Linked DNA regions of Homo sapiens. The protein of the gene in region 2 purifies or fractionates together with the protein of the main gene of each other region. This does not show direct contact. Each region holds a gene or a part of one and is shown on either strand. Other genes may lie near its edges.

The links.
Region 1: the proteins of WWP2 (region 2) and FAM168A purify together in Homo sapiens (affinity purification with mass spectrometry; 5 studies listed by BioGRID and IntAct, with this or other methods). This does not show direct contact.
Region 3: the proteins of WWP2 (region 2) and AMOTL1 purify together in Homo sapiens (affinity purification with mass spectrometry; 5 studies listed by BioGRID and IntAct, with this or other methods). This does not show direct contact.
Region 4: the proteins of WWP2 (region 2) and AMOT purify together in Homo sapiens (affinity purification with mass spectrometry; 5 studies listed by BioGRID and IntAct, with this or other methods). This does not show direct contact.

What each region holds. Positions count from the first base shown.
Region 1 is NC_000011.10:73,412,672-73,420,614, reverse strand, and holds part of FAM168A (protein FAM168A), read left to right. Parts: intron 1-615; coding exon 616-741; intron 742-7,943.
Region 2 is NC_000016.10:69,933,308-69,941,250, forward strand, and holds part of WWP2 (NEDD4-like E3 ubiquitin-protein ligase WWP2), read left to right. Parts: intron 1-662; coding exon 663-822; intron 823-2,545; coding exon 2,546-2,679; intron 2,680-3,004; coding exon 3,005-3,145; intron 3,146-3,810; coding exon 3,811-3,931; intron 3,932-4,240; coding exon 4,241-4,345; intron 4,346-5,719; coding exon 5,720-5,816; intron 5,817-6,033; coding exon 6,034-6,106; intron 6,107-6,533; coding exon 6,534-6,633; 3' UTR 6,634-7,943. UniProt on the Homo sapiens protein: E3 ubiquitin-protein ligase which accepts ubiquitin from an E2 ubiquitin-conjugating enzyme in the form of a thioester and then directly transfers the ubiquitin to targeted substrates.
Region 3 is NC_000011.10:94,770,616-94,778,558, reverse strand, and holds part of AMOTL1 (angiomotin-like protein 1), read right to left. Parts: intron 1-7,943. UniProt on the Homo sapiens protein: Inhibits the Wnt/beta-catenin signaling pathway, probably by recruiting CTNNB1 to recycling endosomes and hence preventing its translocation to the nucleus.
Region 4 is NC_000023.11:112,837,455-112,845,720, forward strand, and holds the start of AMOT (angiomotin), read right to left. Parts: upstream 3,378-8,266; 5' UTR 2,998-3,377; exon of another isoform or gene 2,754-2,997; intron 2,497-2,753; exon of another isoform or gene 1-2,496.

The DNA.
Region 1 (7,943 bases), on a different chromosome or scaffold from region 2:
TGGGTGTACAGGAGAAGGAGTTATTAGCAAGGAGTGCCCCACTGGCTAACTAGGTTCGGTGTGGCACAGTGCCCAGTGCCTTTTAAGCTACCATGGCCACAGCTCAGTCCCTTCAGAAGAGATGGTAGTCCAGCAAGGTTCATGTAATGTGGTCATTATTTGTGGGCCTGTCTTTGAAAGCAGCTTATAAATATACCTCCAGATGATATTTCAGACAACAAAGAGTGCTCAGTTGATCTGGTGACACACAAAGGCTCCCAAGTTGTTACACATTAATGAGAAAGTGGCTGAGGAATATACCAGAGCCCTAGGCCACAGTGTCAGGTAGTAGGAGATGGTTATTCATGGGCATCTTTGTGGTTTTAGTAGTAGGTAGAAAGTCCTGACTCTTTTAGTGTAAGTTCAGATTTCCTTGATTTCAAATCATTTGGAAACATACTTCAGCACTCCTCCTAACCCACTCAACCATCTCAGAAAGGCTGACCATCCCATGTGTCTGAACAGGCCCCTTGGGTTGTATGTTTCTGTCCAGCACAAGACCCTTGCTTTGTGTCTGTGATTGGTGGTGGCCACTTCTTATTTCTGTCTAATGCCATTCTTGTGTCTTCCCTTAAGCAACTCTGCTGATGAAACAGGCCTGGCCACAGAACTCGTCTTCCTGTGGCACTGAAGGCACCTTCCACCTCCCAGTGGACACCGGGACCGAGAACCGAACTTACCAAGCATCCTCTGCGGCTTTCAGTAAATACAGCCTGTCTCATTTCCTTGTTCCCCTTGGTTGGGACTGATTTGTTTCTTAGGAAGAAAGGAAAGGGAGCTTTTTAAAATGACATTTATGAGATAAATAATGTTTTAAGAGGTTCTTTTACCCAGGCAAAAAATTACCCCTCCTTATTCAGGAAAGGTCATTCTCTTTGATCATGCACTCAGCTTTGGGGAAACACAAAGCACTGAGGGAAGGAGAAGGAAATACTCACCTGGCCAACAAGTTGATTGGGGAAGGACTGTTACTGCATTTTAGGGGGAAAGGACAGAGGGCACATTTTGAAGGTCTGTGGGTCTTTGGACAGAGAGGGCTCCCCCCTCTAGCACAGGGCTTCTTAATCTCAGCACTATTGACATCTAGGCCAAATAATTCTTTGTTGTGGGGGCGCTGTCCTGTGCATTATAGGATGTTTAACAGCATCCCTGGCCTCTACCCTACATGCCAGTAGGAAAGCCTCATTGTGACAACCAAAAATGTTTCTAAACATTGCTAAGTGTCCCTTATGGGGCAAAATTGCCCTCTGTATGAGAAACACTGCCCTAGTGCAAGCTGCACTGTGGGACCAAGGTGTGTATGAGGAGTCTTCAGGGAGGCCAGAAACCAGCTAGCCAGTCAGACTGGTCATATTCATCCTGAGGCTCAGTAGGGTAACTGATGTTGTCACCGTCACATCTAATTTTTAACACAAAGTGGTTCCACTGGGGAAATGAGGACCAATGTTTAGAAATTACTGAGTGGCAGCCGGGCGCGGTGGCTCATGCCTGTAATCCCAGCACTTTGGGAGGCCAAGGTGGGCGGATCACGAGGTCAGGAGATTGAGACCATCCTGGCTAACACGGTGAAACCCTGTCTCCACTAAAAATACAAAAAAAATTAGCCGGGCATGGTGGTGGGCGCCTGTAGTCCCAGCTACTCAGGAGGCTGAGGCAGGAGAATGGCATGAACCCGGGAGGCGGAGCTTGCAGTGAGCCAAGATCACGCCACTGCACTCCAGCCTGGGCGACAGAACAAGACTCCGTCTCAAAAAAAAAAAAAAAAATGAAATTACTGAGTGGCATTTTGACTCCATATAAGGAAGAACTTTGTGTCTTGTTGGAGCTGTTCAATAGAGGAATGACTGACTTTGGATGTGGTGAGAACTTCTCTCTTAAGTTGTGAGGGCTGGATAAGCCCTCAAAGGGATATTCCAGGCAAGGCCTGATAGTGTGTGGTTCCACAAATTATTAATCTACTAAGTAAGTAGACTAGAAGAATTCATTGTATTTTTTTCTTTTCTTTAAAACATCTGTGTTAGTCTGTTCTTGTGTTGTTATAAAGAAATACCTGAGGCTGGGTAATTCATAAAGAAAAGAGGTTTAATTGGCTTACGGTTCTGCAGGCTGCACAAGCATGGTACCAACCCCTGCTTAGCTTCTGGTGAGGGCCTCAGGAAGCTTACAGTCATGGCGGAAGGCAAAAGAGGAAGCCAGCATATCACATGGTGAGAGAGGGAGCAAGGGGCTGGGAAGGTGCCACACTCTAAATAATCAGAGCTCACTCATCAGCAAGGGGATGGTGCTAAGCCATCATGAGGGATCTACCTCTGTGATCCAGTACCTCCCAGCAGGCCCCATTTCCAACACTGGAGGTTACATTTCAGCATGACATTTGGAGGAAACAAACATCTAAACCATATCAACATCCAATGTCATTTTCTCAAGTTTTCATTGCCCCTAGATGTCAACATCAGTTTATGTTTATACAACGTAACTCACCTTTTGTAAAATATAGTCTCATAATCACCCTTTCATTTAATCTACATTACACTCAGTCTACTAAGTTATTTAGGTGGATTTTCATCCCAGTTTGAACGATGAGGCCTAGAAAGGTAATAGGTCCAACGCCACCCAGCTAGTAAGCAGCACAGCCGGAAAAAGGTATCACCCAGGTTAAGATTCAGTTACTGACTTTTCTCATGAGATTGATTTTACTCTTTAAGAGAGGTATGTCAGGCCAGGCGCGGTGGCTCACACCTGTAATCCCAGCACTTTGGGAGGCCGAGGTGGGCGGATCACAAGGTCAGAAGATCGAGACCATCCTGGCCAACATGGTGAAACCCCATCTCTACTAAAAATACAAAAAATTAGCCAGGCATGGTGGCGGGTGCCTGTAGTCCCAGCTACTCGGGAGGCTGAGGCAGGAGAATGGTGTGAACCCAGAAGACGGAGCTGGCAGTGAGCCGAGATTGCGCCATTGCACTACAGCCTGGGCAACAGAGTGAGACTCCGTCTCAAAAAAAAAAAAAAAAAAGAGAGAGAGGTATGTCAGCCATAAGGAGTTTCTCCAGATACCTCAGGTAGAATGAATGAACATACGTAAGATTATATATATATAAAAATAGGGATATACATGTTCTCTCTTACATCTAAACATCTGGATATAGACGCATATAGGCACACCTACTGTAGTGTAGCAGAAAGCAGCCTGGAGTGGAAGCTGCATTGAATTCTAGACTGGGTTCTGTGTAACCTTGGATAATTGATGTCCATGCATTGGACCTTGATTTTTCAAACTGCAAAATGAGGGAACTGAACTAAATCATCTCCAAGGTTCTTTCTTGCAATTAGACTCCTTATCTCTCAGCAAGATGATGTGTACTCAGCGTCTTCCACCCCAACAGGGACCACCTCTCTAGCTGCCCTTAGCTGGCCAACAAACCATCTCCAAAAATGGAGTACTCATTCCCTTCAGAGGCAACCCTTTCCACAGGAAGTCTGAGTAACAGAAGGCCTTGCCTTCTACTATGTTGAAATCTTCCTGAAATCCCATTAAGTGTCCAGCAGCCACATCCCACTGTTCCCTCCCAGACAGGCTATCACAGTCCCTGAAAAAGACCAAAATGTACCCACCCCCACCTTTTTTTTGAGACAAGGTCTTGCTCTGTCACTCAGGCTGGAGTCCAGTGGCACAATCACGTCACACTGCAGTCTCAAGCTCCTAGGCTCAAGCAATCCTCCCTCCGCAGCCTCCCATGTAGCTGGGACCACAGGCATGCAAAACCATGCCCAGCTAATTTTTTTAATTTTTTGTAGAGATGGGGTTTTCCCACATTGCCTAGGCTGGTCTCGAACTCCTGGGCTCAAGCTGTCTGCCCACCAGCTACCATGCCTGGCCTACCTCTGTTTCAAGCAAGTAATGTATAAACCTGTGCCATTTTTTAATGCAGTTGGGGTTGACTGGCCCTCCCATACTCAAAAAGATTCCTCCCAGCATTCAGATTTTGTGGCTTCTAGTACCACAGAAAATTCAGGGCACTTTGACAAATTCAGTTCAATTTCACTGATACTTGCTAAGCCTGTTTGTAATTAGGTCTCCTGCTGATTCATCACTGTCTCACTTGGCTACCAACAAGGAGTCTTAGGGGTCAAAGCAAGATTCAGACATAGAGCTTTATTTTGTCCAGACATATAAATCTGATGATCAATAAACCAATTAGTCTAAAAGGCATCCGTGATGCAAGGATCAAGCCTTTGAAGGTGGTAGGGCTTCTACAACTGAAAAAGATTTATGACAGTGAAAAAGGATTGCAGAAAGCGCTGAAAAGGTTTTATCTTGTTAATGTACATACTCTTTTTATTATCCCATTTGATTCTAAAATTATGGTTAGGAACCTAAGAGAAAGAATAGGACATCATAAACAAAGCCTCTTTTATAAGGCAGAGCTGGGACTTCGAGTGATCTAATTCATTTTTTCTTTCATGATATTGCCTTTAGTGAAATGGGGACAACAAAGGCCAGTATATTAAATGCCCAAGATTGGACTACAGAGACTTTAACTCAGCAAGAGCTCTGCCTAGGGCAGGGTGAGCCCTGAACTTTGGGCCTAGCTGTGTACTGATGTGCTGTACAATTTGGGGAAAATCTGTCCTTCTGGGCTCCAGGTTCTTTCTCGGAAAAGGAGGAGGTTGAATATAAACCTCTAATGTCCTTCAGGCACAACATTCCAAAGTCTTAATTCTGTGACCTTCAGACTTAGAATTCCTTTCAGGATAGCCAGGCCTCCAGTGAGTGAACTGAGTCTAAGTTCATTTGGGCAAAATCTGTGAGACTTTTTTGCAACAAGCCCAACAGCTTCTTTTACTTAGATGCATAAAGTAATAAACCCTGATTTTTGTGTCACCCAAGCTCAGGCTATAGCTCCAGGGGAATTTTCAGTGTTCCTCAAGAGTATTGACAGGACCACTAGTAAATTATGGAAAGTCCTCTGAAATGATTTCCTCATGAAAGTCTTCTGAAATACTCAGAGACCTAGAATGTCAGCACTAGAGAAGTTCTCTGATACTGTCTAGTCCAAATGAGGATATTCCCTGAGAGGAATTGACCTGACTTACTGACAGAACCTAGGATGAGGGCCCCCAGGCAGTTTCTCCAGCCTCATGAAGATCCTCCTGACAAATGGTAACCTTGAGAACCACTGTGGTTAGAGGAAGTAGCACTGAGTCTTAGATCCCCACAAACAGCTCTCTCTTTCAGCAACTACTCATTATCTCATCTGTGAAATGTTTACGTTGGTCTTAATGATCTCTGAGTCTTCTAGCTCTGCAGTTCTGCTTCTATCTCAGACTGTCTGGACAAACAAGCAAGGCCTTCTTCTGCAGCATCATCTCTTTGGCTGCCAAGGGTGTTTTGGCTACTGATTTGTATTCTGAGTATGTGTGTGTCTCATTTCATAACATGAAGAAAGGGAAACATTCTCAGACAAGGTTATTCTTAGATGTGGGAACCAAATTCTACTGCAGTCTCTTGGAGCTTTTTGATTTTCCTCAGAGGGATAGTCTCACCACTTTGTAATATGGCTGTCCTTGTGGCATACAGTGGGTAATCCAGCTTCCCCAGGGAAGAGAAAAATTCCAGAGCACATTCTCCAGGAGCATAAAGGAAAGTCATCAGCATCTTTGGCCTGTTAACTTTAAAGAATCATAAAATCATGGCATTTTAAGCCATAACATTTTAGAATCTTAGAATCCTGGAGTCTGTGTTCCAAGCTGGGACAGACCATAGTAGTCATAGATTAGCTTTAGTCTCTCAGACCAGGCTCTGCCTGCATACCCTTAGGACAGAAGCTTACTGTCCCTATAAAGTGAGAGAGAAAATAATAATAGCTGATCTTTATAAAGTGCTTCTAATATGTCAGGTACTGTTCTAAGTGCTTTTTACTTAACAGTTAATGTATTTATCACAATGAAGTAGGTACCATTACTGTTCCCATATCACACGCGAGACTGATGTATCCTATAGCTATTAAGTCTCAGAGCTGGGGGTTTGGACCCAGGCAGTCAGTCTGTCTCCAGACTGCTCATAACCATGGCTCTGTGCTACAGAGCTTTCAGAAACAGGCACCTTCTGATTCAGGGGTGTCCTACTCTCCTGCATAGAAAAGGGATGCTTTCAGCTCTGCTAGGTTTCTCTACACCTTGATATATTCCTTTAAATTAGGGGTCAGCAAACATTCCTGTAAAGGGCCAAATATTTAGGCTTTTAAAAAGGCCATATGCTCTCTGTCAGTGACTACCATTGTAGCAGGAAAGTAGCCTTAGTCAATATGTAAATGAATGGATGTGGATGTGTTACAATATAACTTTGTTTACCAAAACTAGCTTCAATTACAAAAAACATGGCTGAAATTTAATTGTTTTAAATGTTTATAGTATGAATAAAAGATTCTGTGGTAAAATTAATTTGGAAAATACAGTCTTGTACATACTCCCATCTTAGAGATTCACAGTTCACCTCCCCACCTTCTTTAAGAGACAGGGTCCTGCTCTGTCACCCAGGCTGAAGTACAGTGTTGTGATCATGGCTCACAACAGCCTTAGACTCCTGGGCTCAAGCCATCCTCATGCCTCAGCCTCCCAAGTAGCTGGGGACTACACCAGCCACCATGCCTGGCTAAGTTTTTTTCTTTTTTTAGAGATGTAGTCTGTCTGTGTTACCCAGGCTGGTGTTAAACTCCTGGTCTCAAGTGCTTCTCCTGCCTTGGCCTCCCAAAGTGCTGGGATTATAGGTGAGAGCCATCACATCCAGCCCATCCTATTGTTTTAAAAACTTCTCAGGGTCATGGAATAAAAACAAAATCTTAACTGTTTATCTCTATTTTACATATGGGACTATAGAACTCTTTTGTTTCCTTTTCTTTGGCAAAAACAACTATTAAGATCCCTTGGGATCTATAGTACGTTGTCCACATTTGGGAAATGTCTATCTCTGGTTTATCTATAAAACCCCTTTATTTTATAGATAAGTAAATTGTGTCTCCGTACACATCAGATGGTTCCTTCTAGACATCTGCAAAGCTAGTCTCCCTGTCTTCCCCCACAGTATCTGCTTCTCCTCCTATGACCACATTTCATCATTAGCTCCATAATCTAGAAACTTTGAGAAATCTGCTCTAGACTTCTCACTCAGCTCATAGTTGCACTTCCAGTTAGTTTCTACTTCTCTTTAACATGCTTCCCTCTCTTTCATATGTACTTTCCATTCTATCCTCATTGTTACTTATTTCCCAAGCATATTTGATCACAAAACTATGGAAAAAACTATGGATCTGCAGGTGAAAAAATAAATGACGTGAATCCAGGAACAGGCTGACTTTTGTGGCAGCTGTGCAGCAGCTCTCCTATCCTCCTGAGTCATCAGGGGCAGGGGGGTGCTAAGCCAAAGAGGTGTGATGTGGACTGAGAAAGATTTGTGACCATGTGGTAGTTTGCTTTTACTTGGGGTTAAGGTAGAAGAGACCCAGGATCTTTAGAACCATGGAATTTTTGTTTAGGAAGAGATCTTCATTCTTAGCCACCTGATTTTACAAAATAAGAAACTAAGGCCCAAAGACTTGACAATTGTCATGAAAAATTAGGGGGAAAGCCAGGACTGAAGACTAGATGTCTTCTCTTCCAATAAAGCACTCCCTCCACTCTGCCCCTAGTCCCTTATTATATGATAGAAACAGCACCTCGGAGCTGAAAGGGTCCTTGGTGAGCATCTTATAGGTGAAAGAGCTGAAGCCCAGAGAGGTTCAGTGAGGTCTGCTAGACTTACCCAAGATGGAACCACAGGAAAGAAGCCACCTCAGCACCTCCCCAGCAGGGCTTCAAAGCCTAGGTCCTCAGGCACTGTCCCTTCAACTTAGAAGAGTTTAGAG
Region 2 (7,943 bases):
TCGCACCCAGGGCACGGGTGTTGGTTCAGATGAATGCGTGGAAGTGTGGGAACGGGGATGGTGTTGGGGTCTGGGGGTGAAGGGAGGGCAAAGTGCAAGAGTGTTGCATAGCTGGTGGGCATGAGGTTTCTCATCTGAAGGCAGCATGGATTACATTGTCATGGATCGGGGTTGGAAATGTGTTGCTGTGTATTTACGTTATGTTGCCCGCCCAGGTAGAGTGGAAACAGGGTAGTTACTATTCAAACAGAACCTTTGCAGAAAAATTATTGTAATAAACATGCATCGTGCCCTTGTGCAGTGCACAGCCTAGGCAACTGAGCATGGTGACCCAGGGTACAAGGACCCCCTTTACCATTAGAAGCTCTGGATATTGTGATGTAAAGTCTTGGAACACATCACCTGGGAGCCGACAATCACACGTTTTCCCAAATATCATCCTCAAATGCAGTTGCCGCCCTGGTTCACTGTAGGTCTGAGCCTGCCCTGTTCACTGACCAGCTGTTCATATAGGTTAGCCCGGGTGCTTGTCACAGGGCTCGACTCCCTGGGACACGTGTCCCCATACTAACCTGAGACACGATGGTGAAGAGACACAGCTCCTGTGCAGATGTGCACGAAGGGACCCATTATTCTTGTCTTTTCTGTCTCTTCCCTCACAGAGAGTGGTTTTTCCTCCTGTCTCATGAGGTGCTCAACCCTATGTATTGTTTATTTGAATATGCCGGAAAGAACAATTACTGCCTGCAGATCAACCCCGCCTCCTCCATCAACCCGGACCACCTCACCTACTTTCGCTTTATAGGCAGATTCATCGCCATGGTAAGGGGGCCCCAGGGGTCTGCCTAGTTCCCTCCTCCTCTCCCTCCTCTTCCCTCTCCTGGTGAAGTGTGCCAGGGGCACCAGGGGAATCTGCTCTTTCTCTGAGACCTCCAGGAAGGGGCAGCATTGGAGGAGGCCCTGGGCCTGTTCACCAGGAGGCAGCGTGGCGTGAACGGCAGCCCCCGTGGACTGGCTCACCCTCTCGGGGCTCCACCCTTTGCCCCCATAGAGCTCGTAACCTAAAAATGCAAGAAGCTAGAGAGAGTTCTGGAGAAACCAGAGCTTTCTCAGTGGCTGCCCTGTAGGTAGTGAAGAGTTTCCATGTTGCTTTGTACAGGACTTGTCAAGAGGGAGCCCAGGGTCGCTGGGCCACAGACTTTACTGAACATTAAATATGTGCTCTGTTGAGGGCCTTGGGATGACAGGGCCAGGTGAAACCATAGCTGCCCACCTGCTGCCTGTCTCTGGGAGGTGACACTGTCACGGCATTTGGGAATGTCCCACTGAGACACTAAGCCTTCTGGAAGGGCATTTGGAATCAACACTAGTGTAGAACAAAACGTAAAGTCTGTGGCCCAGAGACCCTGGGCCCCCTCTTGACAAGTCCTATGCAAAGCAACATGGAAACTCTTCAGTACCTACAGGGCAGCCACTGAGAAAGCTCTGGTTTCTCCAGAACTATCTCCAGCTTTTTACATTTTTAGGTTACCAGCTCTATGGGGGCGAAGGGTAGAGCCCAGAGAGGGCGCGCCAGTCCATGGGCGCTGCCGTTCACGCCACGCTGCCTCCTGGTGAACAGTAGACTGGCTGGTGCAGGGTGTAGGGACATCTGTCAGAAAGTGAGCCAGTTCTGGGGAGGGGCGTCCCAGCGTCTGTATTTAACTGGAAAGAGGGACACAATGTGAATATGGAAAGGGAGGTCCTGCCACGTGCCCCGTTGAGGGTCCTGGGAGCGTGGAGAACCCGGATTGAGAAGCGGAGCCCGTGGGAGGCACAGCGCGGGAGCCACATGCATAGCTGGAGATGTTTCAATTCTCCTTTCCTTCGCTTCTTCCCCTGCCTTCCTGAGTGTCCCACCCGGCTCCCCTCTTAGGAGGACCCAAGCGCCCCATGAGCCTGTGACTAAATATGGCCGGCCCTTCCCATCGTCGAGGAGTTCTTGGCCAAGGTGCTGGGCTCTGGAAATGGGCACATTCTTCCCAGGTCTAGAGACCCGCCTGGCCCAGCAGCCAGCAGGACAGACCGGTAAAACCCTAGACTATTACTCACCATTGGCCGCCAGCTCTCGCTGTCGGCGGTGTCTGCATTATTTTTGGCTGCCTTTGCCACCCACCCTGAGCGCCAGTGAATCAGGGCTGCCACCTGCAGCTGTTCAGAGCAAGCCTTTTCTGTGAGCGTGGGGCAGACCTTTGCTAGGCCAGGAGCCAGCCGGCCAGCGTGCGGGGCAGATGCGGGCCCGGACGTGGGTTCCCGCACCAGCTGGCTCTGCCCAGTCCTTGCGGTCTGCAGGGCAGGGTGGGAGTCCCTCTGTAGGTACAAGTCAGGATAAAGGCGTTGTTTACTCCTGAGGCCCTCCCGCTGCGTCCGAGGCAGCTGCTGCTGTAGTTCTGTCAGGGAAGGAAGGCGGGTAGCGGTAGCAGAGTTTGATACCGAGCATCTGAGAGCTGGTCTTGGCAGTGCCCAGGGAAGGCCAAACCTCTGTGCTGTGCCTCTTCCTTCCCAGGCGCTGTACCATGGAAAGTTCATCGACACGGGCTTCACCCTCCCTTTCTACAAGCGGATGCTCAATAAGAGACCAACCCTGAAAGACCTGGAGTCCATTGACCCTGAGTTCTACAACTCCATTGTCTGGATCAAGTGAGTTCCCTGCCCCCTTGCCCCACCGCGCTGATAGGAGGGACGTCTCTGGGTGGGAAGCAGGTACTGATGGCCTTTATTTTGTCTGCCAGTGTGGCCCCTGAGCTCTTTTCCAGCCTCTATAAGAGCTTGTGGAGAGGAATGTCCTCTGGGTTCCCTGGGGACAGTTCTAGAACCTTCTCCTTGAGTCAAGGAGCTGTCCCCTGTCACTGTTCAGGATTCTAGGCCACCTGTGGGCCCTTGGTGTCCCACGGGCAACAGAGCAGGATCCAGGAAAGACCCTGACACGGTAGACATCTCCCCACTTGGTCTCCTGTGCCCCCAGAGAGAACAACCTGGAAGAATGTGGCCTGGAGCTGTACTTCATCCAGGACATGGAGATACTGGGCAAGGTGACGACCCACGAGCTGAAGGAGGGCGGCGAGAGCATCCGGGTCACAGAGGAGAACAAGGAAGAGTACATCATGTGAGTCTCAGGCGCCGGGGGCTCCGCTCCAGGGGTGGCGTGGAGATCTAGTGGGTTGCAGAGAAAGATGGGCCCCCACCTGTGGCCCATCGGTCACTGTGGATGCCATTTGCATTTGCCTTGATGGTGGCTGCTGGTGGGCGGTCATGTGATGGCGCGAGCTGGGGGAACCAAAGCCGAGGTCCTTAGTTACCGACTCCCAGCTGTGCTTTTTCGCCATGTGGGAGACTTCAAGCCTGCAGCGTGGAATTTCTTTGAAGTGGCATCAAGCTGAGACATCTGCATCTTTCTCCGGGCCGAAAGGATCTCTGTGGCCTGTGTGCCTAGACCCACCGTCTCACGTGTGCCCGTTCTCCGTGCCTGTTCCTCAGGCCTCTTGCTTTAGTCTTTATCTCCACGCTTCCATACGTCTGAGGTTCAGTCGGCGCTGGGGGCAGGAGCAGGAGGAGGTGGTGGTGAGGATGATTTCAAAGACTCCGGTGTCTGCAGGTCACTGTGAGGTTTTCAGGGCCTCACTCTAGGTCCTCCAGCAGGCTGGGTCTGGGTGTGCGAAGTGGGCTCTGCTGATCTGGTGGTCCTGCGCGGTAACGGCCACGCGGCCTGGCCGGGAGCCACCCCTGAGCAGTGGGTCTCAGACTCCACCCATGGCTGCTCTTTGGTCTCAGGCTGCTGACTGACTGGCGTTTCACCCGAGGCGTGGAAGAGCAGACCAAAGCCTTCCTGGATGGCTTCAACGAGGTGGCCCCGCTGGAGTGGCTGCGCTACTTTGACGAGAAAGAGCTGGAGGTGAGTGTCTGAGGTTGCTGGGACCCTGAGCCCCTGCCTCTGGGGCGATCCTGCTCTGTGATACGCTCACTGTGTACCCACAGACACTCAGCGTAAAACTCCCACTTCGGCAGGGCAGATGGGTTTGATTTGGGACCCACCCTTCCCCAGACACTTGTTTCAAGAAAGCAGGGACTTACATTACCCATATTATTAACGCTGACACCAAAAATAGCTAGTTGAATATGTTTGGGGTAATGTCAAGTGCTAGCGAGTGGACGATGCGCGGGGAGGGACCTGCCGGGGATGCTGACTGCCGCCTCTCCCCAGCTGATGCTGTGCGGCATGCAGGAGATAGACATGAGCGACTGGCAGAAGAGCACCATCTACCGGCACTACACCAAGAACAGCAAGCAGATCCAGTGGTTCTGGCAGGTGGGTCCCGGGCCCAGGCCTTGGCAGGGACATTTGGGCCATCAACCAAAGGAAACGGGTCCTGAGGAGGCCTCACGCGCAAGGACCTTCAGCTTTGGCCCTGTCCTTGCCTCCCACACCTTGCAAAAGGAGACGATAGACCAGCCTTGGGATGAACGGGGACAGTTCCAGCTGAGTGGTGGCCAGTGGATGTGACAGGAGGTCGTCAGTGGTCAGCCTTGGGCCAGCTGGTGTGCAGGGACAGACCTGCAGGCAGACAGCAGCTGCCACTGGTTGAGAGGTCCCCTGCCAGCCAGATGGGACAGGAAGGCAGGGGCTTGGCTCCAGAAACCAGAAAGAGCTGTCATCCTATGTATAATTAATGTGTTGATTCTTTTATACGTATGGGTTTTGTTGTTGTCGTTATGAAATACAGCATACAAAAAAAAATAGCGATTACAGGTATTCTTAGTACATGTCTGTGTGCATATGTACGTATACAAATTTTTTGTGGAGGTGAAATTTGTATAACATACAATTAACTATTAATTTTTTTTTTTTCAATAGAGACAGGGTCTTGCTATGGTGCCCAGCCTGGTCCTGAACTCCTGGGCTCAAGCAGTCCTTCCATCTCACCCTCCCAAAGTGCTGGGATTACAGGCGTGAGCCACTGTGCCCAACCCATTTAAGTTTTTTAAGATACACAATTCAGTGGCTTTCCACTTTGGGTTCCTTGGCTTCCCACCCAGGCCGAGGTGGGCAGATCACTTGAGGTCAGGAGTTCAAGACCAGCCTGGCCAAAATAGTGAAACCCTCTTTCTACTAACAATATAAAAAATTAGCCAGGCATGGTGGTGGACACCTGTAATCCCAGCTACTCGGGAAGCTGATGCATGAGAATCACTTGAACCTGGGAGGTGGAGACTGCAGTGAGCTGGACCGTGCCACTGCTCTGCAGTGAGCTGGACCGTGCCACTGCACTCCAGCCTGGGCGACAGAGCAGTGGCTTCCAGTACATTCACAGTGTTGTGCACCTGGCACCACTATCTAATTCTGGAACATTTCATCTCCCCAAAAACCTTATACCCATTAAGCAGTCACTCCCATATTTAGTCATCTCTAAAAGCAGAACGTGGATGGGAAGAGAATACCCAGCCTGAGGTGTCCCTGAGACCCAGAGATGTCCCATGGACTGGTGGGAATCTCATGCACACACAGCCTCTTAGCAAAAGCACTTCTGGGGTTTCTCAGGTTGGAGGCTGTCATCCCCTGGCCAACCTGGCTTTGTGTTCTCAGCCCCAAAGAGGGGCCCCGCTGAGCTAGAGAGCTCCACGTTCGGGCAAAGTACTGGGCCCCGTGGGTTGCCTGACTGTGCCTTGACTTGCGGACTTCCAGGTGGTGAAGGAGATGGACAACGAGAAGAGGATCCGGCTGCTGCAGTTTGTCACCGGTACCTGCCGCCTGCCCGTCGGGGGATTTGCCGAACTCATCGGTATGTTTTCTCTCGCCCTCTGGCGTCCTGGCTGGCAGTGCGGACAGCTCAGAGGGAGGGGGAAACCTAGTCTCTTCCTGGAAGCACGTCAGTGGGATGGAGAAGAGCTGTGGCCTCTGCATCCTGGGGCCGAGCCCATCTGTGGGTGGAGCCGGAGGATCCTGCTTTGGGAAGGGACGTCTCTGCTGACGTCGGCGTGTTTTACCTTGGATCACAGGTAGCAACGGACCACAGAAGTTTTGCATTGACAAAGTTGGCAAGGAAACCTGGCTGCCCAGAAGCCACACCTGGTGAGCCTGCTGGTTTTAGTGGGAGGTCGGGGGGCCTCAGACCCGATGAGCTCCTGGGACAGCCCAGTGGGTGTAGCAGCTTCATAGCCTCGAGTCTGGCAGCTTTTGCGTGGCCCTGGGGTGTTGGGTTGGAGAGATGGGGCTGTGATGGGCATCTGATCTACCGGGTTTTACATATGAAGCACTTCTGTTCCAGTAGTCCAAGAGCTACTGCCCCAAGTGTCCCCCGCAACCAATTTCCAGCTGTCCTGGCCCCTCCCTTAACACCCCATGGTCCAGGCACCTGCAATGTGAAGGCCTGACTGGCAGCCCCTGAGCCCTAGCCAGTGTGGTGCAAGCCCTGTGGCCCTGCTGCAGGCAGGCATGGTGGGGCTATCAGAGCCCTGGCCTCCTAGGGCTGACTGTCGTGCTTCCCCACTCTCAATAGCTTCAACCGTCTGGATCTTCCACCCTACAAGAGCTACGAACAGCTGAGAGAGAAGCTGCTGTATGCCATTGAGGAGACCGAGGGCTTTGGACAGGAGTAACCGAGGCCGCCCCTCCCACGCCCCCCAGCGCACATGTAGTCCTGAGTCCTCCCTGCCTGAGAGGCCACTGGCCCCGCAGCCCTTGGGAGGCCCCCGTGGATGTGGCCCTGTGTGGGACCACACTGTCATCTCGCTGCTGGCAGAAAAGCCTGATCCCAGGAGGCCCTGCAGTTCCCCCGACCCGCGGATGGCAGTCTGGAATAAAGCCCCCTAGTTGCCTTTGGCCCCACCTTTGCAAAGTTCCAGAGGGCTGACCCTCTCTGCAAAACTCTCCCCTGTCCTCTAGACCCCACCCTGGGTGTATGTGAGTGTGCAAGGGAAGGTGTTGCATCCCCAGGGGCTGCCGCAGAGGCCGGAGACCTCCTGGACTAGTTCGGCGAGGAGACTGGCCACTGGGGGTGGCTGTTCGGGACTGAGAGCGCCAAGGGTCTTTGCCAGCAAAGGAGGTTCTGCCTGTAATTGAGCCTCTCTGATGATGGAGATGAAGTGAAGGTCTGAGGGAGCGGGCCCTGGGGCGAGGCCATCTCTGCCTGCCTCCCTAGCAGGCGCCAGCGGTGGAGGCTGAGTCGCAGGACACATGCCGGCCAGTTAATTCATTCTCAGCCAATGAAGGTTTGTCTAAGCTGCCTGGGTATCCACGGGACAAAAACAGCAAACTCCCTCAGACTTTGTCCATGTATAAACTTGAAGTGGTTGTGTTGTAGGGTTGCAGGTTTTTTGTTACGCTGCTGTCACTTTCTGTCCAGGAGCTGGCACCCCAGGTGTTCTGAGACCTTGAGGGACCCAGACCTTTGGGTCCAAGAGTTTCCCAAACAGCCACGCCTCTCAGGAACCCACCTGGCGGTTCCGTGAGCTCAGGCAGGCCTGACCCGGCGGCACAGCCTGGCAGGGACCTCGTCCCCAAGCCTGGCAGAATGAGAGGGGTTGAGGTCCCGAGCGCCACTCCTAGCCTTGCCGCCTTCAATAGAGAAGAAATCCCTTTGCTAGATAGGGTCCCCCAGGCAGTCCCCAGTGGCGGGACACAGGGGTCCGGCTGTGGAGCTCCCCTGCCAGCCCCTGGAGCTCCAGGAGGGCCTGTTGGTCCCCTGTTCAGAATGGAGTGCAGCCCGCCAGCGGAAAGTGTTCATTCTGCATAGGTGTGAGGCTTTATCTGCACACAGGACATGAAAACCAGCAGAAAGGCCCTGAGCTGCTGCATAGCCCCATCTGATTTCTGCAGTTCCCGCCAGCCTCCAACACGGGGACTCTGCCGTAACTGGAATCTTCATAGGTCATATTGAAATCTTCAAGGTGACCATGCCCCACCGGGG
Region 3 (7,943 bases), on a different chromosome or scaffold from region 2:
CAATTTTTTGAGGTAGGTGTAATTAAGATCCCTATATATCACATGAGGAAATTCTACTTGACAGAGAGGTTAAGTAATTTAGCCAAGATTATAAAGCTAGTGAGTGGCACAGTTTGGGTGTGAATACAGGTTTCCAGTTCTGGAGTCTTAACCATTAAGCTCCATAGATAATTACTGAAATCAAAAAAAGATATCCAAAGGGCACACCACAGTTAGCCTATTAGGGTCCTCTTCCCACCATCAGGCAGGACATTACATCATATTTTCTCAATTTAAGCAGATTTCTAGTAAGATACCCCCACACTTCTATTAATTCTTTGGTTGCCTCTTTGCCCTCCATATCCTCCTAATCTGTATTTATCCACCCTCCCCAGGAGAGAACTCTTCTAAGCTTGTAGAAGTCATGATATCTGTGATTTAAGCTCATTTCAAAGTGAAAATAAAATAAATACTTGAAAGACAGTTATGAATCCTTTCTTCTCTTCTTAGAGCAGAACGAACCCAGTTCATTTGTCTTTTGTTTTCTAACATCTTAATACATTACATTCCTTTTATAGAATATGAATTCCATGGGGAGCAAAGGATATATATCCCACACCTAGCCCAGTTCCTGGCACATGACAGACCCTCAAATATCAGATGGATGAACTATATATCCTTTTATTGTAACCCCATCAAATTCTCCACCTCAGTATTGACTTGTACAAAGCAGAGTTATTCACTCAACAGATATTTAAGGAGTGAGTGATTCTGTATCCAAATTTCTGCCTAATTTATATTCTGTCCAAAATAAGAAATGTCATGCTCCCTAATGTCTCTTCTATAAGAGAAATTGAAAATATTCAAAGTAAATTCAATTAGCATAATTGTGACTACTGCCTAAATAAATTACTAAATTTAATACAAGAAATTCAGTATTTTATTTTATGAACAAACAATTACACATAACCCATTTTTTGTTCCTAAACTAATAAAGTTATTTTAGTCACTTAATAAATGTCATTAAAATGTAAATATTTGTCTTTATTTCAATTTTTTTCTCCAAACTCCTGGAATTTATTTTGGAGAAATTTGAAAGTAAGAAATGTTAGAATTTGGGGAAATGTAATGCCTCAACTCAGGGTTAAGCTAATATATATCTCAAAGTAGACTTTTTAGACTCTATTCTTCAGTTTTTTGATGACTATCATACAGGATCAACTCTAAAAGTCAGCTAAGGTATATTTATTCACCATTTTTATGCCACTTACCACTCATTTTTGATCTGCCAGGCCAGTCAATACCACGGGAAGATAAGCCTGACAGGATTATGTCCTTTAACAAACCTACTAGTTTAAACAAACCTGACACCGCCATTATCTTCAATGTTTGTATAAATGGTTGTGTGATGCTTTTAAAATTACTTTCCCAGGTGTCTTAATTGAAGCTTACTGTGATTTCAGAAGGCATTTTCTTTGCTCTTTTAGATAAAAAGACCATTAGACCATTTCTCTTTTCAAGAAGCTAGATTGGTTTTACATGTGTTTTTCTGCAATGAATTTAATGATATGCACTGAGTGCTGCATCCAGTAATTTCCATAAAAAGCACATTTCCTAATCTCTTTGTCTGCCCTTCTTCTATGTTCCAACCTTTCCCACATCACCAGGATGAGTAATCAACCTATAACTGCAGTGATATTTAGGAGCCAGTCCCTCAGGAAACAGGGCCTTACCAGAGGATTTCATATTCTCTACTTTTCCCAAGACCAGCAGATAGAGGAGGCTTGCTCACAAAACACTTGGTTCTCAGAGCCCTCCAGAACACCACCCGTGTCAGAAAGGAAAAGGCCTGCTTCACACCTGCTGTCAGGGGTCACATTGCTGGGTCATACCACCCAGAGCAGCCCTCACAGCTGAGAAGCAGCAGCTGAATGTGAGATGCCTCCTTCCTCCCTGGCACGTGGCCACAGGGCGTGTGCAGAGCCCTACCTCACAAAGAGAAAGCAAAGCAAGCTTGGAAGACAAGATATCTATCATCCCTGTCTTGCTGGGCCTATTCTGAGAAGGGTGGAGGAAAGGTGGGAGGAAGCAGGGAAAGAAGGAAGGACAGAGTAGGTCAGAAGAGGTGCAAGAAAACAGAAGTGGGAAGACCTGTTATGTGAGTGGCTATCACAATAGTCCAGGAAACAGGTAATTAGCCCTTAAACTGGTTTAGCTGTAGAGACATGCAAAGGAAGGGAAAGTATGCAAGAAGTATTTTGGAGGTCAACTGCAGGACCTAAAGACTGACTGGATGTAGGGTGGGCAAGGAGATGAACCTTATTACAGTTTACAGAACACTTTCAAAGGAGACAATAGGATGATGAAGTGTGGAATGGTATCTGAGCATGTGCAAACACTGGAGAGATGAACAAGCGCCAGCTGCCTGCCTCTCATTGACAAAGCTTGGTTCAACAGTGGAACGGATCCAAGGTGGAGAAGTTCAGGATGACCTTTGATGGTCCTCTTCAGGAGGACCTTTCCGTGCTAATTCCACCCAAGCATTTCTATTTGCTTCTCTCAAGGACCAGATCCCTGGAAGAATCCCATGAGTGGAACATCCCTAGAAACAGCAGACATCTCCTGATAATGGCCTGGTAAGCTTTGCCGCCAGCATAACCCAGTTGCCATGCTGACCCAGCTTTCAAATGGAATGAGCCTCCAAAACAGAAGTGGTAAAATGGGGTTCAAGTGAATAGAGCATTCCCAATCAGTTCATACCAGCCCTCCAAGGGAGATGTGGTACATTTCATTCAAAAATGTGTCCCTGTCTTATCATCTGAAGCCCAGTGGTGTTGCCATCAGACAACAGAGCCAATCTCACTATAGAACAACACTCCTCAACAGAAATTGCTGCAGTGATGGAAATGGCTATTAAGCACTTGAACTGTGGCTAGTGTGACTGAGGTCCTGAATTTTTCATTTCGTTTAATTTTCATTAATTTAAATAGCCACAAGTGACTAGTGGTTACTACAGACAGCATAGGTCTAGAACTTTAAAAACATAGATGTGGGCCAGATCACATCTGTCCTAAACTGCTAGAAAAAAAAAAAGTCACAGAGTTATATTTCTCTACTCTGAGGAAGCTGAATCTCTAATATTTCAACATCTGCTCAAGCAATTTTCCAGCACTGGGCTCTCCTTTGGTCCTTACTACAACTATTTATCAATCAGCCTCCAAAACATTTCCATTTGGAAGGCACTCAGACCCTAGCTTAACCATCCATCCACTGCAGGAACCTTCTTCATGATGTCCCTGAGTATGTCCATGGTCCCTGCATATGTCTATGCAATCGTTACCAAGTCCCCCAAGTAGCAATGAAACTTACCGTCAGTCAGAGACACTGCTCCAAAAAGATACTGATGATGCAGAAAATAATTTTAAGAAAACTATTTTACACAAAATTTCACTTCTTATGAAGCTCTTTCACATTCACTATGTCATTTAAGCCACACAATAACCTTAGAAGATAAATATTTAGTAAATACACTTACTTTATAGAGCCTAAGTGATTTACCAAGGCAATATGGTAGCCATATACCCAGTTGTGGCATGTCTTCCAAGGAGTGAGAGACAAATGATAGAAGAAAAAGTCATGGTCAGGAAAGTGAGGCACAAAAGAAGAGTGATTAGAGGAAGAAATATAGCTATATCAACTAATAACCTTAGAAATAGATCTGTTTCAAACTCAATTACTTATAGATGAACAAACTCCATTCCAAAGGGTAAGCATCTCAGTCCAGGCCCAATTTAAAGGGGCTATGTTTTAAAATGGTCATTCTTAACATGTGTTTCCAGTACCAGCAGCATCAGCATTGCTTGGAAACGTGTTAGAAATGCAAAGTCTTAGGCCCTATCCTCAATCAACCAAGGAAACAGAAACTCTAGGGGTGCGGCCCAGCAATCCATGTTTCAATAAACCCTCTGGGGTATTCTGATGCTCAATCACATTTGAGAACAACTGTCCTGGAATTGTACATCTAAGACCCAATTAATTTCCTCTGAGAAGTAAACAACTTGGTCATCAAGAAGGAAACAGAGCTGCCAGTTATGAAATTTGAGACACGGCCTGGTGACATCAGCCCTGACTTACTGCACCTACAGTACCAAGCACCATAAACTCTGAACTAGCCTTCTGAATGCAGACCCACCTCCTCCTGCCTCCTGTGCTCAAGGGCACAGAGGAAATCATTCTTTCATCAGAAATCATACTTTTATAGAAGCAAAGAAAGGTTTATTTTATAGATAGTAATAGATTGTGAATAGGGCATCCTAGCTTCTATCTCATTCACTAAGTAGTATTCACAGCGCTCCCAACTGTGAAAAGGAACACTTCCATGAGTAAGAACAGGGGTTCCAGGTTCTCAAAGAAGACGGATACATGCGAATTTACGTAACATTATAAAGTGTTTTGCTTCTCTGCTGTTTTAGTAATAATAATGGTAGCAGGTATTTATTGAATGCTTTCAACGTGCCCAGCATTGTGCGCATTGCTTCACTTTGCCCTCATGCAGCTCCATGAGGGAAGAACTATTATTTTCCCCATTTTACTCATGAGGCTTCAGCATGTACAATTCCGAGGTCACACAGCAAGGAGGCGGCAGGGCCAGGATACACCTGTTCTCAATCCAAAATACTACCTCTCCTTTTTCATTTTAACATATACATAACTCTTAATCTATTCAACTTCATTCATACTGTTTATGTTACTGAGTTTTAAGTACTGTGTTTTCACCTTCTTTTAAGCTATCATGCCATGTACTGTTCAAAAAGGTCCTCAACCACTCAGTTTATGCCAACTCAATCAGCATGTGCTCAAGAATCAGAGTAACACACTCTAAAGAATTCATGGCAATAAAGATCTAAAAACTGGATCAAAAGCAAACCAATTTTATTCCCACCATGGTTGGGCAGCATGCCCAGGGAAGCCCTCCCTGACCGCCTGGACCAAAGTGAGCCCTCTCTCCTCAGAGCACCCACAGTACATCACATGTGTCCCCATCATAGTAGTAACACATGGTAATGTCCACATGCCACACCCCTAATCTGTGAGCACTTCAGAATGGGAACTACACCTGATAGTCCATCTGTGCATATTCGAGACCTAATAGATGGTTTATAAGCTCAGCAGCAAGACATACAAACTCTTAAGACAGACAAAAGTGAACTATAACTTAAAAATAAAATGTAAAACTATAAAACTTTTAGAAGAAAACACAGCAGAAAATGTCTGAGACATGGGTCTAGGCAAAATGTTCTTAGATGTGACACTAAATGCACCATCCTTAAAGAAAAAAGGAATCTATCAACTGGACTTTATCAAAATAAAAAACTTTTGATCTGCAAAAGACCTTGGTAAGGACATAAAAAGACATGCTACATACTTGGGAAAATATATGTGCAAGCCACAAATCTGACTAAGGACTTGCATCTAGAATATATAAAGAACTCTTAAAGCTCTAAAGTAAAATAAATAATCCAGTTAGGGAATGGGCAAAAGGCATGAATAGTTATTTCGCCAAAGAGGATATATGGATAGCAAATAAGCACATAAAAAAGACAGACATTAAACATAATCAGCCATTAGGGTAATGCAAATTAAAACCATGGTAAGATTAGAGCACCTACTAGAACACCTATTAGGACAACTAAAATAAAAAATAGTGATAACATCAAATGCTAGTGAGGTTGCAGAGAAACTGGATCTCTCATACATTGCTAATAGGAGTGGTGCAGCCACTCTGGAAAAGTTTGGCAATTTCTTAAAAAACTAAACACACACTTACCATACAATCCAGCAATCACAATCATGGGCATTTACGCCAGAGAAATGAAAACTTATGTTCACACAAACACCTATATATAAATGTTCATAAAAACTTTATGTGAAATAGTCATGAACTGGAAAAAACCCATAGGTGAATGGTTAAACAAACCATAGTACATCCATATTATGGAATACTACTCAGCAATGAAAAGAAACAAACTATTGAGAGATGCAAAAATTTGGATGGATCCCCATGGCATTATGCTGAGTGAAAAGCCAATCTCAAAAGCTCACATACTACATGATTGTATTTATGTAACATTCTCAAAATGATAAAATTATAGATATGGTGAACAGGAGTAGTGGTTGCTAAGCATTTAGCAACAGAGTGAGGATGGGGAGAAGAGGGCCAGTGCAACTATAGAGGTGTAGCATAAGGGAGATCATTGGGGTAATAAAATAGTCTGTACCTTGATTGTGGTAGCGGTTACATGAATCTACACATGAAAAAATGCATAGAAGTACACACATAGAAATACAAATTTTACATGTGCATGTAAAACTGGTGAAATCTGAATATGCTCTGTGGACTGTACCAATGTCAATTTCCTGGTTCTGCTACTGTACTATGGTTATGTAAGATGTTACCAATGGGGGAAACTGGGTGAAGGGTACACAGGACCTCTCTACTATTTTTGCAACTTCCTATGAAGCTATGATCATTTCAAAACGAAAAGTTAAAAGTAAACAGCAGACATTTTACTTAAAAACAAAATGAAAAAATAGAGGTATATAGCTGCAATATTGGCCAGTGAGGTCTCAAACACAGGTTTAAACACACACCATAGAACGACAGTTTTTGAAAACTTAAATCTAATTCTTCAGTATCTTAACAGGGATACATTTCCAACACCTTAGAGCTACTCTCCTACTCTCTCCTAAAAGATGGGGGGAAAATGCCTGATGTGTGAGCCCCTTTAGGAGTCCAGGAGTCCTGTCCTGAGTGTCCAAAATGAATATACCCTAAGGTTACACAAGGCCTGGCCGTGAGAGCAGAGCCAAGGGCCTCACAAGTTAAAGTAGAACTCAGCTTGATGCCAACACATAAACCAAGAGCAGGAGTGGCTTCCTTCCAGCAAAAGTAGAGGACTGCCCTACCCACAATGGCCAAGATTTACATTGTACCTCTCCTTCAAGACAAAACAAAGCCAAGCCAACAAAATTAACTTTAAAAAAATCACTAGGCAAACAAAAAAACAAAACAAAACATAAAACCACAACAACCTCAGACTATTTCCAACAAACCTTGTAATCAAATATCTCCCTTTACTTGACCTCCACACTACCCCTTGCTTTTCGAGGATTTTATTACCTACTAAATTCTGAGTCATAAGAACCTGCCAAAATTAATGAAAAATAGGAGAAAAATTATTCAAAACACTGCAGAATTTTCTGACCTGAGCTTCCTTATGCATTTAAAATGCAGATAGCCACACACCGCACCCCCCCCCCAACCCCGCCAAAAAGAAAAGAAAATAGAAAAGGTTACTTTGGGGGAATTTTATATATCAGAAATATTAGCAGGTCCTATAAAGTTACTTCTTTTTAATTTATTGGCCTGAAAAATCAAACTTTTACAATTTTCACTAGCAATTCCCATTTCATGTCATTAATTATTTTTTTCAAAAGTCTTTGTTTTATCATTTTCAAAGCATTTTCACAAATTACTATGAAGAAATGCAGCACTGATACCTAGAGGCTATACCTTTCAACAGAACTCTCACCAGCCAGACTGCTCATTTCAATTAGTTCAGCCATCTTTTCCCTAGGCCCTGGGTCCACACTTTTCCTTAGGGGTAGACATCAGAAAAGCTGAGCTCTACCCACAACAGCCTCTAGACTAACTGGCCCAGGGCAGACACTCTCAAGTCTGATCAGCGGAGTGCTTTCCCATAAAATCACTCACATTTCTGCATTCATGTGTTTTTCTTAACGACAGCACTTTAAAATCTCATTTAAACTGAAAATCCTCCATTAGCCTCCGTGAAAAGATGTATTTTTAAATGCTTTGATCTCCACATGCCCTTTGGAAAATTAGTATGCTACATCCTCCATCATCTGCAAAGAACCTGAAAGACCAAGACTTCTGTGCATTT
Region 4 (8,266 bases), on a different chromosome or scaffold from region 2:
TTGTGGATTCTTTTATAAAGCAAATGACCTCCTATTTTCTTTCTTTCTTTTTCTTTTTCTTTTTTTTTGTTCAGATTGTGTGTGTTGTGTGTGGAAGGGGCGACTTCCCTCCTTTCTCTGGGTTAAAAGGGGTCAGAAGCCCACCATGGAGGAGAGTAATGCAGTATGGCCAGCCTGTTTAATACCCCCTTAGTTCCTGGGACAAAATTCTAACCTTTGACTTGGGGGTGGAACCCTAGAATTTGGACCAAAGTCCACAAAAGGCAGCAAGGAGGGAAAAGTAAGTAAGACTAAAGACAACACATCATAGTAAAACACCAACAAAAATTCCTGGGGACAGGAAATCAATGGATCACAATTCTAAACAAATTGGTTTAGTCCCCAGCTAATTAACTTGTCAAGCAGATCACTAAACCTACTGAATCCATGGGAGAAAGAGATGATGTAATAGGAGATTTGGAAACATTTACCCATTTACCATCCTAAAAGGCTCCAGTACGACCACACACACCTCTCCCCACCCCTTTCAGTGTTTAAGCTGGGCTTAATGGGTGCAAAGGACAATTTCTACCAGACAGTCCCCAAGAATAGACTGTTCTCATGCATTCCAAATGCTCAGTCTCCATGGAGGAGGCTACCTGGTCACAAGCATTTCCCAAGAGGGAATATATCCTCTATTCCTCCTCATTGGTAACAACTCCCCCACTCCACCCCCACGCCCCAAACAAAACAAAACAACTTCTAACCATCCTGAGAACTTCAGGGGACTTTTCTGGGGTAAAGGAAAAGAAGCGTTAAGAGGGGAACAGGAAAGTGTGAGAAACCCCTCTTGTCTCCAAATGGAAAAAAAGGCCTTAAAAAGCTGGATCAAAGGAAGAAAGGGGGATGGGGAAGAAGGGCCGCTTAATTACAAAGACACCCTTTTAAAGAAGGCGCAGGCCCTGGGAGAGGGCTCTTGGGAGAGGCACAGAAGCAGATGTACCCACTTAGAATTCTGGCACTCAATGGGACCTCAAGGTCATAGTATCCATCCCCCTGCCTTCTGATTAGGCTATTCTTAAAGCATTCTAGAGTCTGATGCAGTCTTTACAAAACCTCAGAAAGAAAAAGCAACTCTACAAATGTCCTTGTTGGGAATTAGTCTAATAAATCAAACTTCATAAACCAGAAATGAAATTTTAATTTCCAAATCCAAAACTGCATTGACTATGAATTATTAAAATTCCCTTTCTAAAATCTTTTAAATAGGTAAACAGATCCACAAATTTCATGTAAAAGTGACTCCACATACAATTGTGGTCAGAGGTTTACTTCACATCTAGACTGTGAAGGTAGAAAAAGCACTTACAATTTTACAAAGCCACGAACTTTTCCAAGGAAAGAAGTAATTTAAAATGAAGTATGATGTAGTGCCAGAAAGTGTCTGTCAATGACGCCGGATAAACCCATACAGAATAGTTGGAACCTTAGTTATCATCTGTAAATAGAGGCAACTACTCTACAACCACCTGGCTGTTAAAATGTCCCAGGCCAGTTATAAAATGTAGTTTGGTCAGGCCAGCTTTTCCCTCCCAGCTGATCTGAAACAGGATAGCCTTTAAAATTGTCGCCCTTCTCTACCTTCCTACTTTCCTTTCACTCATTAAAATCAACCAAAGTTATTTTAAAATGTATGTTAATAATGTGTTCCCAAATAAGCAATGGGTTAAGGACATCTCAGTAATAAGTCTTTGAACACCATCACTTACAGGCTTGACGCACTTGTCCAATTGAAGATAGGTGGGAGATGGATGAAAATGTATACCACATCCAAAATGGCATTTCAAACTATTCTTAGCTACTAAATGAGGGTGCTGAAAGGTCTAACTGAGAAGGCTTCACAAAGGCTGGCCTGAGAAAGAACTTTTCACAAAGCCTAGCTCAAGGAGACTTAAATATCCTTAGCCCTTCATCATTGAAGATTATGGTGACTAATTATCTTCTTCTCTGAATGGGAGAAGAGGGTTATATTCATAAAAGTTTTAAACTGCCTCCCAACGTCCACTCTTCATGGCGGGGAGGGAGGAGAACTTCATGCACTAAACATCCCAGGTTGTTGAAAAGTTCGTTCTAAAACATACACTAGAGATTGAAAATGCTGTTTCTCACCAACTTTCTCTTTCCTTGCTCATTTAATTCTACTTAGTCCCTTTATGCAAATTATTATATTATTATTAGTGGCAATCTACCAGGAACTGCTCACAGTCTATTAAAGACTGTTATTTTCCCTCCCCCTTTTCTTTCTCTTCATTTTCACAAACCCATGAAGCCCATCTTACTGTTGAAGCACCAATGTGCAGTGGCCCAGGCTTGGACCCTCAAGACACCCTCAAGATCCCCCAAAACTATTTACTAACATCTTTGGATCTTCTAAAGCAGATAGGGGCAACTCCCTCCTCACCACCACTATCACTACCACCACAAGCACTACCACCACCACCACACATCTCAAAGAGTAGCCTTGTTTTAGATTACACAGACTTTAAAACTTCAAGAATTCACGGTCCTACCCCTCCTGCTCCCGCCTCAGGGAGTGTGAGTCCCCACCCCAAGCCTAAGCACTTAGCAGAAACCTATCTAGTTATCTGAGATAAGCACTGACATGCATGCTGGGCTAAATGTAGATTTCAGCTTCCCTCGGGTCTTTAGCTCCTCAATGTGATTAATTACCTAGAGACCCACAAGAACCCCAGGAGGTAAAGAAGTAAAAGTACCATCTAGTAGTGGTACCCACTAGCATCTCCTCACCGAAGTAGGACGGGAAAGCAGCGCACACTCTAACCGATTTAACTTGCTGCACATCCAAAAAAACTCATGGCGAGCTGCAAAGAAAGTAGAACACACGGGCATTCCCACACGCGCCTAGATCGATTCACTCACGCCGAGGGCACGACCAAGTTCATGCCACCATGGATTCCTGCCCCAGTTCCCCGCGAAAAGTAACCACGCGTCTCCTACCCCTGAAGGCAAAGAAGACAAGGTGACGACTCTCTGCTCGCTCAAGTGGCTTCGGTCCCGGGCCAGCGGCCAGGGATGGGCAGGGGGGAAGCCCCAACTCCCGGCTGCTCCCCTCCTCGCTGCTCCGTCCGGGCTCTCCTTGGTGGCAGCGGACAGGCAGGATACCGGGCCAGAGGGTGGAGCAGCGGATAGCCGGAGGCGAGACTGACTGGAGGTGGTGGTAGTTGAGGGGGAGGCGGAGAGAACTAAGAGAAGAGGAGGCGAAAGAGAGCGGAGATGGAGGAGTAATTCAGGGGGTCTACCAGTTTAGGCAGCCAGAAAGCTCCTCGGAAGGAAGGGGCGTGACTGCCAAGGCAGCTCCTGGGCAAAGGATGGGAGGTAGGGGAGGGGGACGAACGGGTGGCTTTTCTTCTTGCGGTGAGCGGCTAGGACCGCCCCGGAGCAGGGCGGCGGGAGGGGTGGACGAGGGAGGAAGGCGGAGTAGAGGGCGGGGAAAGAAGGGCGGGAGCCTGCCTGGACCCTGGAAGTGAGGAGTGAGGGGAGCGCGGAAGAGAGGCGGGGCCGGGGGGCGTGGAAGTTTCAAACAATTGAACCGCGGGGTCCGGGAGCTCGGGCGAAAGCAAGGGACCCTCGCTCTCGCCTTCCCACTAGAGGGGCACGACTCGGTTGCCGTAGCCGTGAGAGTCTGCGCGGGGACTGGCTGGGAAGAAGGAAAGGGTTTTGCAAAAGACTACAATAATAATCTGCGGCAACAGCGCGGCATAGACGCGTGGGAGAGCCAGTGCAGCTCCCCGCCCCACTGCGGGAGGAAGAAAAACAAATAATAGAAATGCTGAAAAGCAGCTTCCACCAAAGCCTGCTTAAAATAATGCAGGAAGGAGAAGCGCTCCTTCGTTTTCCTTCCCCTCTTGCTTCCTATTACCAGCAGGCCCCCACCCAGGTCACAGCTCTGCGAGACACCCTCCTTTCTTCCTCCGCTCCCCCGCCCCGGGCGCTTGCCCCCCTCCCGTTGGCGGGCCGCAGAAGCTGAGGGGCGAGGGAGGAGGGGTCGCGGGCGGCGCTCCGCGGAGGCTCCGCCCCTGGGCGGGCTGGGAGCGCCGGCCTGGGCGGAGCGCGTCCCTGAAGCGTAAGTCCCGCCCACCATTCTTTTGCAGCTACCGGTTGGCCCAGCCTGGCCTAGTATACGCTTGCGATTGGGCCCTGGAGTCGCCAGTCTGATCCCTTTGTCCCACCCGCCCTCAAAATTAATAAAACTAAACAAGAGGCTATTGTGTAGTTCTATGTTCTACCCCAGCTACTGCTGGCAAGAGAAAGATGAGACGCTTTATTTCTCAGTCTCATAAAAGAGTGCAACAGTGTGTCGGCCGACTCTGGTACGCCTTTATGTTTATGGCACTGTCCAGCTTTCTGCGAATAGGTAACTTTTCTTCCCCCTTAGTTTATTAAATCAGGAGGGGGGAAAGTACATGAAGTGTCATTGTGGTGTTCTGCTGACTGTGAAAAAAGCTGACATTGGTTAAAAACGAGAGGGTTGAGAACAGCATCCTGGGACACGGAAAATCTACCATTTTACATCTAGAAAAACGAAGGCACAAAGAAACAGTGTCAGGGTAGCAAAATAACATGGAATTTGGAACCAAAGGAAGAATTCATTTGGGGCCCTGGCACTTACTAGCTAATTGTATGACTTCTGTTAAGTGGCTTAACTTCTCAGCCTTAATTTTTCTACCTGTAAGTAAATGCTGTAAGACATGCCCTATTAACTTAAAGGCACTGGTATGAAAATAAAATGTGTGTGAAAACTATAAAGCACTCCACACATGTATGTGTTCCTACTTGTGTGTGAAACATAATGGAGAGTCTTAGATGTGTTAGAGGATCAATATTTTGCTCATCTGTTTTAAGCATTTACATCCAAGGTCGTGTAGGTTTTGTGGCTTTATTTTAAAAAGTCAACTCTTTTCCTACAATTTTGGGGGTGGATATGAAGTTGACTCCCTGCAGTTAGAATAATAAATTACCCCTTTTCTAAGCAGGGTGGGTGAGATTTCTTTTTTAAAGTTCTACAATTTCATGACAACTTAAAGCTATTGTGGTTCTGGTACTGAAAGAGGAAATCATGCTGTGTATCTCCGAAGTGAACTTAAGAAAACAAATATGAAGGAACATTTACCATGGAAACCACCATTCTCTACAGATCCATATTTCCTAGAAAACATTTCAAGTAGGAAGCAAGCCTAAATGTAAACGCCTTGACAGCGCAAGGCCATTATAATGGCTCATGCCAATGAAAGAGTGACATCCAATTCAAGCCTGCCTAATGGGAGCCATCTGGGGGGCCATGGATCAAGGCATGCAAGAGGAAGTGTGCTTAAAGGAAACACTATCACACAGTAAACAGGGGCTCAGAATCCAACTCTGCAGGAAAAGTAGTGGACTATTGCATGTCATGGAGTGTGCAGCATGCTCTGCTAGGAGCTGTGGAAAGATTCAGAAGCAGGAGTGTGCACAAAATGATTCTCGTTATGATTCTGTTTATGTATGAAGTGAGGTTATTTGGGTGATTTTTCATGGAGAAAGTGAGTTTTTGAATGTTCAAAATATGGAGACACCTGGTTTGTGAAGCAAGGAAAGGTTATTTCAGCCTTGTTATTTGGAGTGGACAGGAGAGCTAGATGTGGGGGGGCGGGTATATGCTGCAGGACTACTACCAATCACAGAGGCAAAAGGATATTTGTTAAAATCAATGCTGTCCAAGTGAAAAAAGTTAAACATGCACATGGAAGAATTCAGATAAAACGGTACTGGGCTGGGCACGGTGGCTCACACCTGTAATCCCAGCACTTTGGGAGGCTGAGGCGGGTGGATCACTTGAGATCAGGTGTTCAAGACCAGCCTGATCAATATGGTGAAACCCCTTCTCTACTAAAAATACAAAAATTAGCTGCACGTGGTGGCATGCGCCTGTAGTAGCAGGTACTCGGGAGGCTGAGACAGGATAATTACTTGAACCTGGGAGGCGGAGGTTGCAGTGAGCTGAGATCAGCCACTGAGCTCCAGCTACTCGGGAGGCTGAGACAGGATAATTACTTGAACCTGGGAGGCGGAGGTTGCAGTGAGCTGAGATCGGCCACTGCGCTCCAGCCTGGGTGACAGAGCGAGACTCCGTCAAAAAAAAACCAAAAAACACCAAACAAAAAGGTACTGAAAGACTACAGTGAAAAGTTCTTCTCCACCACTCTGCTCCCATAGTCCCATTCTCTTTATGACTGTATGTCATCTTCCAAATAGATTATTTGCATATTCAAGCATGAGTGCATATTCCCTTTTTGTTCCTTACAAGTGGGATCATTAATCAAGGCACACCTTGCATTTGTTTACTCAACAATGTATTTGAAATATTCTTCCATCTCAGGATAACTATGTTTACCTTATTTATTTTATTATAACTCAATATTCTATTGCATAGCTGTGCCAAAATTCCTTTACTCATCCCCTTATTAAATGGGGATTTGGGAGACAGACACGGTGGTGGCACACGCCTATAGTTCCAACTACTAGGGAGGTTGAGGGAGGAGAATCCCTTGAGGCCAGGAGTTCAAGGTCAGCCTGGTCAACATAGCAAGACTCTATCTCTAAAAAAAATGGAAGCAAATTTGGGCTATTTCCCATCTTTTGCTACTACGGAAGATGCTATTTAAAAAAATCCTGGTAACAAAGGCCTGGTGGCTCATTTGTAGTATGCCTGCCCCTAGCCTTGAAGTTGCCTTCAAAACACTTTTCTAACATGCTTTCCTTTCCCCACAGCGACTTATACTGTGGAGCAATGGAATTGGAGCAATGGAAACCTCTAAAACACTTAATTCGTTTAACATCCGCTCCTCAAACCCTGCTTGGGCATTACTCTTCTCCAAATTTTGATGGAGTAGAGTTAGCAGAACTCTGAACTTAATGGTGAGTCAGGCTGTGTGTGAGTCATTTCTTAACCTGTGGCAAACAGCTTTTTGGTACTTCTGTTTAACCCAGGTCTTCCAAGCCTTCTATCCTGCCATGCAAGACTTCTTTGTTTTCACCCTGAAAACCTTTCAGTTTGTTTAAACCGAGTTTGGATTTAAAGCTGTGCATTGCCTGCACTACTTAAAAGAGAGGGGGAGGGGGAGGCCAACATCAACAAACATCGATTGAGCCGCTATTATAGACAAGACTGAAAAAACAAAGAGGCATGAGACTTAGCTCCTGCCTTCAAGGATATAAACATAAAAAGACAACTAACAAGCATGTGCTAAGTGCCAAATGAATGGTATTGACAGTAAAAGCTGTGGAAGTTAAGAGCAGAGAGTGAAAACTAGTTCCAGAGAGTTAGTTTATACAGCACACTGTGCCACACACATTTAACTAATCCCCACAGCATCCCTGTGTCTTCATATCCTGACTATAAAGTATAGAAAGCCCTCTGGGGGAGACCAGGAGAATTAACCACTAGCTGTAAAACACCTGTGTAAAGACACTGGGTTGCCTAGATACTACACATTAAAAACCTCCATATAACGATATGGAAAAAAGGAGGATCATTTTAAGCTCAGAAGTCAAGATTCCACATCCCAAACTACCTGTCCTATTTGGCCTTTATTTTTTTTTCTTAAAATACACCTTTATTGCACAATAAAAATCAATATCTGTGCTGTACAAAATAAAATCCATTAAAAAAATCAAATGTCTACCTTGAAAACATTACACAAAATGAAATAAGCCAGATACAAAAGGACAAATATTGTATGATTCCACTTACATGAGGGATCTAGAATGGATAAATTCATAGAGATAGAAAGTAGAGTAGTGGTGATCAGGGGCTGGAGGAAGAGGGAGTGGGAAGTTAGTGTTTAATAGTACAATTTCTGTTTGGGATGATGAAAAGGTTTGGAACTAGATAATGGTGATAGTTGTATAATATTTTGAATGTACTTAAAGCCACTGAATTGTACACTTAAAAATTGTTAAAATGGTAAATTTTGTTACGTATCTCTTACCACACACACACACACACACACAAACACACATGCACACACACAAAAGCTAATAACCCTTAGGCTTAGTGTCAGGAGACAATGCCAGTGATAGGGGTTGCAAGAAGGCAGAACCCATGTGAAAGGGGCAGCCTGATCACCACTACAGGGAAATGCAGGCCAATGTGACCACAGCTTCTGATTTTTCAAGAGAAACCAGAAGTCAAATGTTTTTAATATAAAATCTCCAGTGTTTCATGTTGCCA